2 linked regions of the Homo sapiens genome follow. The protein of the gene in region 1 interacts with the protein of each later gene in a biochemical or structural test. Each region holds a gene or a part of one and is shown on either strand. Other genes may lie near its edges.

Evidence for each region.
Region 2: the proteins of MYO6 (region 1) and LMTK2 form a complex in vitro, tested with the Homo sapiens proteins (one study listed by BioGRID).

What each region holds. Positions count from the first base shown.
Region 1 is NC_000006.12:75,752,239-75,759,238, forward strand, and holds part of MYO6 (unconventional myosin-VI), read left to right. Parts: intron 1-7,000. UniProt on the Homo sapiens protein: Myosins are actin-based motor molecules with ATPase activity. Unconventional myosins serve in intracellular movements. Myosin 6 is a reverse-direction motor protein that moves towards the minus-end of actin filaments.
Region 2 is NC_000007.14:98,193,851-98,200,885, reverse strand, and holds part of LMTK2 (serine/threonine-protein kinase LMTK2 precursor), read right to left. Parts: coding exon 6,314-7,035; intron 1-6,313. UniProt on the Homo sapiens protein: Phosphorylates PPP1C, phosphorylase b and CFTR.

The DNA.
Region 1 (7,000 bases):
GCCTTGGCCTCCCAAAGTGCTGGGATTGCAGTTTCATAGAGTTTAATTATGATACCCATAATGAGATATTTCATAATAATTTGTGAACTGGCCCTTTACTAGTATAAGATTGTTGCACATTTATTAGGCATCTTCCATAATTGGACAGATCACAGATTGAGGGGCTTGATCTACAAAATAATTTTCTAGGCTAATGGTCTTGTCCTTTTACAGATGAGGGAGTCTAGTCTCAAAGAATTAAATGCTTGCTCCAGAAGGGCAAAGTCTGGATTCACACCTGAGTCATTTGACCACGAAGCCCCTGTTTTTTCCACCAGAACAGTTTGCCTTGGTTTCAGTTCACTTGGTGGACTGTTTAAACCGGCAAAACTGGTATTATGTCAAAGAATGTAATTCAAGGTTTGACAAAAGCATCCAGGAGTAGATATGATAGGCCGTGAATGTAGTTCTGGAACAAATTTAGAATCCTGTGTTTGTGTCTTCATTCTCAAGTTGACAGCCTTGAACACTGATGCTGCTGCTTTCTCATTTCTCGTATAGTTCTAGGACATTATATGTATTGTGCATGTATGTATGCTGTTAAACATATGTATGTGTTTAACTTTGATAGGTTTGTGAGAACTAGAATTAGATTGTAATGTTCCTGGTTGGGATAGAACTTTAAAATTTTCCTCTAATGAAAAAGATAATTATTTATGCAGTAGCTATCCTTTAAATATTACATAATTAATTCTCTAATCTTGAGAGGGGGGACTCGTTTTTAGATTATGATTAAATTGTCACTTAGAAACTATTAGTACAAATCTTTTCTATGGTCTGTGGAATATCCCTTGAGCCGCAATAGACATAAATGACAACAGTGAGCAAATAAGCCCATTTTTTCTGGTAACAAACTAGGAATCATGCATTTCAGCAGTAGGATGTAGTTGGGTAAATGAGCAGAAGCAAGGTAGGAAGGCTGAGTTGGGTGGCTACCATTACGGATTTTTTTCATTATTTGCTTTGAACTATTAGGAATTGTGCATCTCAAGGATATTCATATTCAACTGTAAATACAAAACCACCACCTAATATAAATTAGTAATATTACTAATATAAATTGGTAATAGATCTGTGACACACACATCAAGAAGTAGAGTTAAATAAGCTTAAGTTCTCTTTTGGAGGCATTATATCTATATGCATGTATCTATGATCTATATATGTGTGTGTGTGTGTATATATATATATATATATATATATGTTTTTTGGAGACAGAGTCTCATTCATGCCACATGCAGTGGCATGATCTCGGCTTACTGCAACCTCCATCTCCCAGGCTCAAGTGACACTCCCACCTCAGTCTCCGGAGTAGCTGGGACCACAGGTGTATGTCACCATGCCTGGCTAACTTTTTTGTGTTTCTGGTGGAGAGGGGTTTTGCCATGTTGCCCAGGCTGGTCTTGAACTCCTGAGCTCAGATAGTGTGCTGCCTCGGGCTCCCAAAGTACTGGGATTACAGGCATGAGCTACCGTGCCTTGCCGGCATTATATAATGTTCAGAGGAACCAGGATCTTTTCATTTAAAATGGTTCTGATTTTATTTGACAAATTTGAGTGGACTAGAATCTTTAAATATTTTGCAACGTCTTTCTAGTTACTGTTTTCAAAAATTAGCTTATTTTTCTTATTGATTAGTGTAAGAATGACATAATGGTTTGAGAAATGACCATAAGTCCACCAAAAGTTTTCCCTGTGAGTACTGAAGCATAAAAAGTAAAACCTAAAGAAGAAATCTGGCATCTTTAGAAATCTTGCTGGTGCTAAAGAGAGAGGAAATAATTTTTTATACAGAAGGCATGTCTCAAGTGAAACCAAAACACCAAAGCACATTCCTTCAGTGTATATTCACATGGGGTAAATATGATGCTGAGTAATGTGCACAAAGGAAACTCTTGACAAAAACACAGTCATCTTTTGAGTATGTTAGGTCATTTGTTATTTCATTTGAAAATAACCTGGCTGGGGCGTGGTGGCTCACACCTGTAATCACAGCATTTTGGGAGGCCAAGGTGGGTGGATCACCTGAGGTCAGGAGTTCAGACCAGCCTGGGCAATGTGGTGAAACCCCATCTCTACTAAAAATACAAAAATTAGCTGGGTGTGGTGGTGGGTGCCTGTAATCCCAGCTACTTGGGAGGCCAAGGCATGAGAATCACTTGAACCTGGCAGGTGGAAGTTGCAGTGCACTGAGATTGGGCCACTGCAGTCCAGCCTGGACGATTGAGTGAGACTCCGTCTCAAAAAAAAAAAAAAAAAAAAAAAAAAAGTAAGCCGCTGACTAACCTTTACAAGGTAATATATTTTCTGTGGCAGAATTTTTTGATTTCTGATCTATGTGGATGAACATCTTTTTCAACAGATATTTACTGAGGGCCCACTGTGTTTTAGATATGACAAGTGTGAACTGATTCCTCCCTGTGCTGGCATATCTTTGGATCCAGGAAATAGGAAGAGTTGCAGAGATATGAAAAAATAAATAGAAACCATCCATTTGAAATCCAAAGACATATACGTCAAAAGCTAATAACTTATATTTGGATGGCATTTTATTGCTTTAAAATATTTTTGTATGCATTTGGTCCTTAAAACAACTTGATGAAGTAGATTTAGTAAATTTATTCCTTTTCTACAGGTAAGGAAATGGAGACTCAAAAAATTAAAAATACTGGCTGCATGTGGTGGCTCATGCCGGTAATCCCAGCACTTTGGGAGGCTGAGGTTGGGAGGATCACTTTAGCCCAGGAGTTTGAGAACAGCCTGGGCAACATGGTGAAACCCTTTCACAAAAAATATTATACAAAAATTAGCTGGGTGTGGTGGTGCACGCCTATAGTGCTAGCTGTGTAGGAGGCTGAGGTTGGAGGATCTCCTGAGCCCAAGAGGTCAAGGCTGCAGTGAGCTGTGATTGCACCACTGCACTCCAGTCTGGGTGACAGAGCAAGATCCCGTCTCTAAATAAATAAATACATTACTTAAAATTAAGTAACTTGTTCAAGGTCAATGTGGCTACTTAGAAGCATCATCTCTGTGTAGTCCCAAAGTAGTAAGTCCTCCACTTTCCCCCTATTGCTTATGTATTTAACCTCACATTATGGCTTCAAGTCAGGTGGTTCAGGAAGTTCTGAAAAATTAGGGTCACTAAAATGGTGATTATTAAATTGTTACAGGTTATTTTTTAATGGAAGATAGAAGATGAGCATGATGCATCATTATGGAACTACTTTAACATTTTAAATAGATTGCTAGACTGAAATTGGTAATTAGCTTTTCTAGTTGGAGAATTTTTAAAGAACAATTAGTTAAAAAAAGGAAGGAGAAAAATGTTCTGGGGGAATTTTGAAAATAACTTTTATTACTTTGTGCATTGGTAGTGATCCGATAGTTACAACTGTCTTTGTAAAGACTCACTAAAGAACTGTGTGTGCGTCTGTGTTGGTTCCTTTATGTCTTCATTTATTTAAAACGTACTGTAGTGTCTACCACGGACCAGGCACTATTCTAAGTTCTAGGGATACAGTGATTAAATTAAGACCAAGCCCCTGTACTGACATTTTATTGTTGTTTTGAATTAAGTTAATTATAGACTCTTCATACTAGGATGTAATCAACAGGGCTGACCCTAAAGTTGGGAAATAGGCAGTTGTCAAAATTGTGCAATTTAAAGGCTACTGCATGACTTACTTGCTCTGGAATATTTCTGACCTATCTGTCGAAGACTCCCAGACTATTGGGTTATGGCGCTGTTACCAACCTGCTTTGATAAATATAAGTATGTTCCATCATTTATCACACTTTTAGCAAAGAAAACTGAGAGAAAATAAATGGGAACTAGAATTGGACACGGTGATGCTTACCTGTAGTCCTAGCTACTCAGGCGGCTGAGGCAGGAGGAATGCTTGAGCCCAGGTGTTTGAGGCCAGCCTAGGCAACATAGCCAGATTCTGTCTCAAAAAAAAAAAACAACAAGCAAGCAAAAAACAAATGGGACTAGGACTGATATGTTGGTGTTGTAAGAGAAGAGGTTAGCAAAGTATAATTTTAATAGCAGCTATTGTTTTTTCTTTTTTTTTGAGACGGAGTCTCGCTCTGTCACCCAGGCTGGAGTGCAGTGGTGCAATCTTGGCTCACTGCAACTTCCGCCTCTCGGGTTCAAGCGATTCCCCTGCCTCAGCCTCCTGAGTAGCCGGGATTACAGGTGCTCACGACCATGCCTGGCTAATTTTTGTATTTGTAGTAGAGGTGGGGTTTCACCATGTTGGCCAGGCTGGTCTCGAACTTCTGACTTCAGGTGATCTGCCCGCCTTCGCCTCCCAAACTGCTGAGATTACAGGCATGAGCCACTGTGCCTGGCCAATAGCAGCTATTGTTTATTGAGCTTTTACTACCATGTCAGATATTATGCCAAGTGAGTATTTTTGTATACATTAGCTCAATCACTGTGTCACCTCAGTGGTGCTGGTGTTATGACCTTCATTTTACAGATTAGGAAACTGAGGGGCAGAGATGTTAAATTTGCTCAAGCTTATTTGGTGGTGCTGGAATTTGGGTCTCTGCTAGTACTAAGCAGGTAGTAGATACTAATGTGGAAAGAGTACTTATGTGTGTTGTGTGTGTATATATATATATATATACACATATATATACACACCATATATAGTGTGTATATATGTGTATATATGTATACACACATATATAGTGTGTATATATGTATACACACATATATAGTGTGTATATATGTATACACACATATATAGTGTGTATATATGTGTATATATGTATACACACATATATAGTGTGTATATATATGTATACGCAATATGTATTGTGTATATATGTGTATATATGTATATACAAGAGTACTTATGTGTGTTGTGTGTGTGTATGTATATACACACATATATACACACATATATTGTGTATATATGTATATAGACATATATACATATACATATATAGACATACATACATATGTGTGTGTATATATGTATATAGACATATACACAATATATGTGTGTGTATGTATACACACACATATACATATAGAACATATATACATATACATATAGAACATCAGAAGTCTGTGTGTGTGTGTGTATATATATGTATACACATATATATACACACACACACATAGAGACAGACTTCTGATGTTCTGCTAGGATGTGTGACACATCACAGAGGTGGGCGACCTTGGTGTGGGAGTGATGGGTGTGGGGAGTCAGGATAGCTTGTTGGGTGAGGGGTGGGAATTGGGGTTGGAAGGAGATGGGAGGGTATTACTTGCCTAACTACTTGGTCGTCAGGCTTAATCCTCTCTCTGACAGCCCTGGGGTTCCAGAGTTGCGTTTAAGCACAGTGCTTTCTTGTCCAGCTCCTGGGTAAGAGGATAGGCAGACCTGAGGCAATCCTGGTTTTGTCACTCATTAACTTGGTCAAATTATTTCATTTCTCTAGGCTTCAGTTTTCTCATCTATAAAATGGAAGTAACAATATTACCTACCTGGTGTGGTTCTTATGAGGATTGAATTAGATAATAATACATGTAAAACACAGATCACACTGGCTAGCACATAGTGTACATTCATTATTATTGTTGTTACTGTGTTTTTTTTTGTCATGTTTAATGTGGAATTTTCATCGAAAAGCAAGAAGAGCAATATATTAGTGATTTGGTTGGAATCTTGAAGTTGGCTTTTTTTTTTTTTTTTTTTTTTTGAGATGGAGTCTCGTTCTGTTGCCCAGGCTGGAGTGCAGTAGCGCGATCTTGGCTCACCACACCTTCTGCCTCCCAGGTTCAAGCAATTCTCCTGCCTCAGCTTCCCGAGTAGCTGGGACTACAGGCACGTGCCACCATGCCCAGCCAATTTTTGTATTTTTAGTAGACACGGGGTTTCACTATGTTGGCAAGCTTCCCTTTTGATTTATGTGCAAACTGGAATTAGAGAACTACTAGCTTAAACTTTTTCTTTATCTTTTGGTTAGGGAGGGCTTCAACAAGATTAACGACAATTTGCTTGGGTTAACCAGGCAGTATGTGGTAGAGGGAAGTGAAATATGTTACCAGAATCTCTTCATTGACTTTTTTTTAAAGCTTATTTGGGGCTTATAGCATTGTATGGAGAAGACAATGCAGTGTTAAATTTCGCACCTAAATTAGATTGTAATGACTGTTTCAGCTTTTTGTTTGTTTGTTTGTTTGAGATGGAGTCTCGCTCTGTCACCCAGGCTGGAGTGCAGTGTTGCCATCTCAGCTCACTGCAAGCTCCGCCTCCTGGGTTCACGCCATTCTCCTGCCTCAGCCTCCCAAGTAGCTGGGACTACAGGCTCCCGCCACCACGCCCAGCTAATTTTTCTTATTTAGTAGAGATGGGGTTTCACTGTGTTAGCCAGGATGGTCTTGCTCTCCTGACCTCGTGATCTGCCCGACTCGGCCTCCCAGAGTGTTGGGATTACAGGCGTGAGCCACCGCGCCTGGCCTGTTTCAGCTTTTTAACTAGCTTCATTCGGAGGTGATTAGTTAATATTAGTTAAAATTGTTAATTTTTAACGATTATACAAATAGTAAAAATGTATAAATACATGTTTGTATAGATCTTTTTTTTTTTTTGAGATGTAGTCTCACCCTGTTGCCCACGCTGGAGTGCAGTGGCATGATCTCAGCTCACTGCAATCTCCCCCTCCCAGGTTCAAGCGATTCTAATGTCTCAGCCTCCTGAGTAGCTGGGATCACAGGCATGTGCCACCATGCCCGGCTAATTTTTATATTTTTAGTGGAGACGGGGTTTCACCATGTTGGCCAGGCTGGTCTCGAACTCCTGACCTCAGCTGAGCCACCCGCCTCAGTCTCCCAAAGTGCTGGGATTACAGGAGTGAGCCACAGCGCCCGGCCGTTTCTATAGATCCGGTCATTTCTATAGATCTTAAAAACTTTCAAAAACTTAGATTTCTTTAGATAATG
Region 2 (7,035 bases), on another chromosome or scaffold:
GGACAGAAAACATTCAGAAACAACCACAAATAAGAAATAACAGTATAACAACAACAACAACAACAACAAAATAAATAATACAGTATAACAACTATTTTCATAGCATTTACAGTGTATGAGGCATTATAAGTAATCTAGAGATGACTGAAAGTCTGCAGGAGGATGTGTGTAGGTTATATGCAAATATGATGCCATTTCATATAAAGCACTTGGGCAGCCTCTAATTATGGTATCCAAATTATGGAACCACCACTTCTTGGAAACCAAGGGACAACTCCAGAAACGATCTGAACAGAGATCAGTGACAAGACCACCCGTGCATAACCACACCTGTGCATACTAAGTCCTGTGGTTAGCCTTGCGGAACCCACATATACAAAAAGTCAGCCCTCCGTATCTATACACAGGTTCTACATCCCGAGAATACTGTGCTTTCGATCTGTTTTGGGTTGAAAAGAAGCCATGTTATAAGTACACTCACACAGTTCAAACCCATGTTGCTCCAGGGCCAACTGTATAATACTATTCATTTCCTCTTGAGTTTCTTAGAATGTGTTTGATGACAGAAAGTCAAATGTGTTGCACTGTCTGAGGAGTTATCAGTGTACATGTATGCAACATAGAAGAGCATGTCAAGAAGGGGACGGAGGGCAAAAGGCCTAAGTGACAGTAGGGTTTCCACATTCCATCTGAAATATGCAAATACAGATTCTAAGTAGATTGTGAGAAGTTTAATACATACATTGTAACCCCCAGAACAACCACTACAAAAACTACGCAAAGAGAACAGTGTAAAAAAAAAGAAAAAGAAAAATGTAATACTAAAAATGTTCAATTTATTAAAAAGAGGAAGAATAGAAATAAAAATAGAACAAATAAAATGGTATACGTAAATCCAAAATATCAATAATTTTATTAAAGGTAAATGATCTAAACATACCATTAAAAGGCAGATTTTTCAGAACAGAGTTTTAAAAACCCCATCTAACTATAAGATCTGCAAGAAACTCATGTCAAATATAATGATACAGGTAGATTAAAAGTAAAAGGATGCAAAAGATACACCACGCAAACATTAACCAAAACAACGTGGCCAGGAGCGGTGGCTCACGCCTGTAATCCCAACACTTTCGAAGACCGAGGCGGGCGGATTGCTTGAGCTCAGGAGTTCGAGACCAGCCTGGCCAACATGGTGAAACCCCATCTCTACAAAAAATACAAAAATTAGCTGTGTGTGGTGGTGTGCACCCGTAGTCCCAGTTACTTGTGGGGCTGAGGCAGGAGGACTGCTTGAGCCCAGGAGCTCAAGGCTGCAGTGAGCCAAAATCATACCACTGCACTCCAGCCTGGGTGACAAAGTGAGACTGTCTCCGAAAAAAGAAAGAAAGCTGGAGCAGCTCTATGAATATAAGGCAAAGGAATACAGAAGGACATTACGAAAGGATAAAAAGGTCAATTCAGCAAGAAGACATCATCATCCTCAATGTATATGCATCAACAGAGCTGCAAAATACAGGAAGCGAAAATAAACAGAAATGAAAAGAGAAATAGACAAATCTAAAAATCACAGCTGGAGACTTCAACAACCTCTCTCTGAGTAATAGAACAAGTATGCAGAAAAATCGGCAATGACAGAGAAGAACTAATACCATCAACAAATTAAATCTGACATTTATAGAACGATCCACCCACCAAAACCAAAATACACACTCTTTCAGGTATACATGGAATAATTCACCAAGAAAGACCATATCCTGGCTCTAAGATAAACCTTAACAAATTTAAAAGCATTGAAACCATATTAAATATGTTCTCTGCCCATAATGGAATTAGACTAAAATTTAATAACAAAAAGATACAATAAAATCTCCAACTCTTGGAAATTAAACAATATACTTATTAAACTATATTAACCAATTATTAGTAATTATTAATTATAACTAATATATTAAACTATACTTGTTAATCTATGCTCCCAAGAGGAAGTCTTACAAAAAACTTTTTGATCTGAATGAAAACGAAAACTCACACATTAAAATTTGCTGGGTGCAGCTAAAGTAGTACATAAAGGGAAATTTATAGCATTAAATTATTAGAAAAGAAGAGGCCAGGTGCAGTGGCTCACGTCTATAATCCCAGCACTTCGGGAAGCCAAGGCAGGCAGATTCACCTGAGCTCAGGAATTCGAGACCAGCCTGGGCAACATGACGAAACAAAAAATACAAAAATTAGCCAGGCACGGTGGTGGGCGCCTGTGGTCCCAGCTACTTCAGGAGGCTGAGGCAGGAGAATCCCTTGAGCCTGGGAGGTGGAGGCTGCAGTGAGCAGAGATCGCACTACTGCACTACTACAGCCTGGGCGACAGAGCGAGACCCAGTCTCAAAAAAAGAGAAAAGAGGCCAGGCGCGGTAGCTCAGGCCTGTAATCCCAGCACTCTGGGAGGCCGAGGTGGGCAGATCATGAGGTCAAGAGATTGAGACCATCCTGGCCAACATGGTGAAACCTCGTCTCTACTAAAAATACAAAAATTAGCCAAGCGCGGTGGCACACGCCTGTAATCCCAGCTATTGAGGAGGTGGAGGCAGGAGAATTGCTTGAACGCGGGAGGCGGAGGTTGCAGTGAGCCGATATCACGCCACTGCCCTCCAACCTGGCGACAGAGTGAGACGTCTCAAAAAAAAAAAAAAAGGAGAAAAGAAGTAAGGTCTCGAATTCTAAGCTTTTCTAGAAAAAGCAAAATAAATTCAAAGCAAGGAGAAGGAAGGAAATAATAAAGACAAAGCAGAAATCAACGAAAGAGAAAAGAAAAAAAAATCCATGAAAACAAAAGCAATTTTTTGGAAAGATCAACAAATCTACATAATCTCTTCCAAACACTATCAGAGAAGGAAATACTTCCCAACTCATTTTATGAGACCAGCATTAATTACTCTGATAACAAAACCAAAGACAGTGCCAGCAAACAAACAAAACCCAAACCAACCAAAAAAACCTAGGTGGAGCCCTGAATGTTTATTCCTCAAAGCTGGAGAGCAGGAGCCTCTCAGACAGGGTCTCACTCTGCCATCCCGGCTGCAGTGCAGTGACACAATCATAGCTCACTGCACTCTCAAACTCCTGGGTTTAAGCGATCCTCCTGCCTCAGCCTCCTGAGCAGGTGAGACTATAGGTGCGGGCCACCACAACTGGCCAATTTTTTAAAAATCGGTTCTTATTATGCTGCCTAGACCAGTCTCACCTCCTGGCCTTAAGCGATCCTCCTGCCTCAGCTTTCCAAAATGTTAGGATTATGGGAATGAGCTACTGTGCCCAGCCTTCAGTGCTTGTTTACAGTATGACGGATCAGGCTGGAGGGAACCCTGTCGCACTAATTGCAAGTAAGCATCATTACCCGCTACTTTTGTCTCAAGAACACTGTGCACTGAGGAAGGACATCGCAAGTGCTAAAAGTCGAATGCGATGCCAGGCTGCAGATTGTAAAGGTGCATGCAAGAGGTGGCAGGGCTCAGTGGTGAAAAGTTCTGTGCTCGGTCCAGGAGACTTGGGTCAAGCCCTAGCACTGCTACTCACTGGGGCCAGACCCTGTGCAAAGTTTACCTACTCTGAGCCTCAGGGTCCTCTCCATGAAGATGGTGACAACCACCCCCACATGGGGAAGCAAAACAAGACTCAATGTATAATAAAGGTGCTGGCACCCACAGACTGTTCACCAGCCTTTACTACTTTACACGGTAAGTGCTGGTTAAGTATTTGCTGAACTGACAAATAGTAATATAACCAAGAAACAATTGCTGCCCAATCCCATGAACACTCAGTTAAAAGTTTGGAGCCAAGATACTTCAACTGCTTAAAAACTACACAACTTCAAAACCAGCTCATTAAAAAAGAAAGCAGGAGTGGGAGGAAACCCTCAGTCCTCGGCCTGAACGCTTGGTGGCTGTCGCTTCAAGGCATGCTGCATGAGACGCATAAGCAAACGAATTTCAGATCATCAGAAAGATCTTCCTCATTTTCTTCTGGCCCTGACCCACCTTCCGACTTTCTCCTTGACACTAACTTCCTTGTCAAAGCCTCGCGTCCATTAAGCATGTCTGGTATTTGATCTCTGTACCTTCCATCCCATAACTAGAGTGCCCTTGTCACAGATCTTCATCTTTTGCAATTCTGTCTTCTAAAGTCAGAAAAACATAACATCCTCCACAAAGACTTGTGCAAGGGGCCCATACTCTGCGGCCCCAGGGAGTTTTCTCCACAGGCTGCTTCCACTGGGACTGCGTCCCTCTCACTACTCCAGCTACCCCCAGGCTTTCAGGAAGTGGGGACAGCGTGCTCCCTAGCTCCTAACCGCACTGCTCACCGAGCACAGTTGACAGTTCCGTCCCACCTATACATTACCCCATCCATGGAGAAATGCAGCGATAATCCAAGTTCACAGAGACGGTGGAGAAAGGGCTATGTGGATGCATTGAAAACAAAACACAAACCCGAGGGGCCAGGTGATCCCTTCTCCCTTCCACTCTTACTAGAAAACGGCAGCGTGTTTTCTCAGGCTCCCTGAGCTCAGAGGCTCCTGAGTTCGAGATCTGCCTAGGAACCACCTGGGGAATGAAAAGAGAAAGACGGCCTCCTGGCCCCTCGCAGAATCAGGTTCAAGAGGTCAGGCTGAGCTCAGGAGGCTGCTTTTTTTTTTTTTTTTCTGAGACAGGTCTCACTCTGTCACCCAGGCTGGAGTGCAGTGGTGCAATCTTGGCTCACTGCAACCTCTGCCTCCCAGGTTCAAGCAATTCTCATGCCTCAGCCTCCCAAGTAGCTGGGCCTGCAGTCTTGCCTACCGTGACTGGCTAATTTTTATATTTTTAGTAGAGATGGGGTTTCGCCATGTTGCCCAGGCTGGTCTTGAATTCCCGACGTCAGGTGATCCGCCCACCTTGGCCTCCCAAAGTGCTGGGATTACAGGCATAAGCCACCGCGCCTGGCCTTACTTTTCATTTTTTAAACATCCACTTCCCCGCCATATATGCTATAGCTCAAATGCGGGTGATTTAACGATTTTTAAAGAAACATCATAAAAACCAAAGTGAACAGAACACAGAGGAACAAGGCATAAAGTGACGTTCAACAGACGCAGCTCCTGGGGGAGGAGGTGGAACAGTGCTTGGACCCGCCATAGCCACGGACCCATGAGGGATGGTGCCACGCAGGGGCTGAGACCAAGGTCTGGGTTCCCAGAATGGAGCAAAAGGGAGGGCAAGCAATGTGAAGGAGACGGCGAGGACTCCTGCGCCTTCTAGAAGGTGAGGGGACCCCATTTTCATGTCCCACCACTGAGCTCTCCCAACAATCCAGCTGATGCAAGCAGCAAATTCAAGGGCTACAAAGACTAGTATGAAAAGAACTTTTTTTTTTTTTTTAAAGCATGCTTGAATTATCCGCTGTTACATTTTTAAAGGAGCCTAAATCCATGCCCACTCAGCAGTGCACACTAAGCTGCCTGCTCCAAAGCAGGGAAAGAGGACAGGTCAGGGGACAGAGCAGAAGGACCACAGACGCTCCTGCTGTGTGTCACACCCTCCAGACACCCACCGCAGGGCTTCTGGTTGGCCCCTCTCCTGAGCTGTCTCCAGGGCTGCACGCCAGCCATGGTTCCAGGCTTGTACCCAAGTGGTGGGTCCTACTGCCAATTGTCAGGCTCTAAAAATTGGAGGCCAAGCGCAGTGGCTCATGCCTGTAATCCCAAAACTTTGAGAGGCTGAGGTGGGAGGATGGCTTGAGCCCAGGAGTTTGAGAGCAGCCTAGGCAACATAGCAAGACCGTGTGTCTACAAAAATTAAAAACAAAACAAAACAAAAAAAACACCAAAACCTTAGCCAGCCATGGTGGCATGAACCTGTGGGCCCAGCTATTATGGAAGGTGGGAGGATCACTTGAGCCCAGGAGTTCAAGGCTGCAGTGAGCTGCAACTGTACCACTGCATTCCAGCCTGGGCCACAGAGCAAGGCTGTCTCAAAAGAAAAATAAAAAAGTAAAACAGTAAAAATTTGGTGTGTAAAGGGTGACTAATTCAGGAAGACTCCATTAGAAGACCCAGGAAGAGCATTCGGGTCTCTTTCTCTTAATTTAATACGAACTCCCTGAGCAAATGACATTTCTGCATATTCTTAGAACTCTAACCAACCCCAAATTACTTTTTGTGAGTAATCACAATCTGCTGCCTCAAAATGGCAACTAGAAAACAGACCACACTCAATTTCCTAGCACATTTTGGAATCCTTATATGGATGTGTATAGAAAATGATTTAGAGGGAACAGATACCTGGTCAAACAGGTAGACTGTGACATCATCGAAAAACGTGACTGCCTTCTTTTCCTTCTTCCAGTCCTCGGGCAGTGGGTCGGGGGCATTGGCCGCTGTGGGCTTCAACAGACTCCGCAGGTGCCTTCCGTCCTCGTTGCTGAGGATGATGGGCACGGGGTGCTCGGTCTCGTCCTCCGACTCGGAGCTGAGGCTATGCAGGTTGAAGGCCCGCAGGTCCTCGTCCGAGTCGTCGCTGTTTTCGTCCTCCTCGTCTGCATCCATCCCGTCCTCTGAGAGGTCGAGCATCCCTGACACCCCGAGTTTCCCCAGGTACTTCCCTTCGATGTCCGGCTCCTTCAACTTCGGGCCCTCGGAGTGGCTGGACAGGGACTTGTCCAGCGCAGAATTGGTGTAGGCAAGGAGTTCGTTCGTGTTGGTCCCCGTGGAAGCGAGGGTGCAGGGGCGATCGTCCTGTGTCTCGAAGTCATCGCCGCTGCTAAGTTCTGCATTCAGCACACTCCAGGGACTGCTGGCCTCGTCTTCCGTGGGATGCACCTGCTGGGGAACACCAGTCTGTGCTGGCTCCGGCGTGGCTCTTAATTCCAGGTCACTGGAGTTGTGCAAAGCAGACAGACAACTTTCATCTGGCTGGCTCTTTCTGGCTTCCAGGCAGCTATCCTGGGCAGCAGGACTTTGCTCGGGGAGGACTGGCTCGGGTAGGGGCTGCTCCTGTACCAACA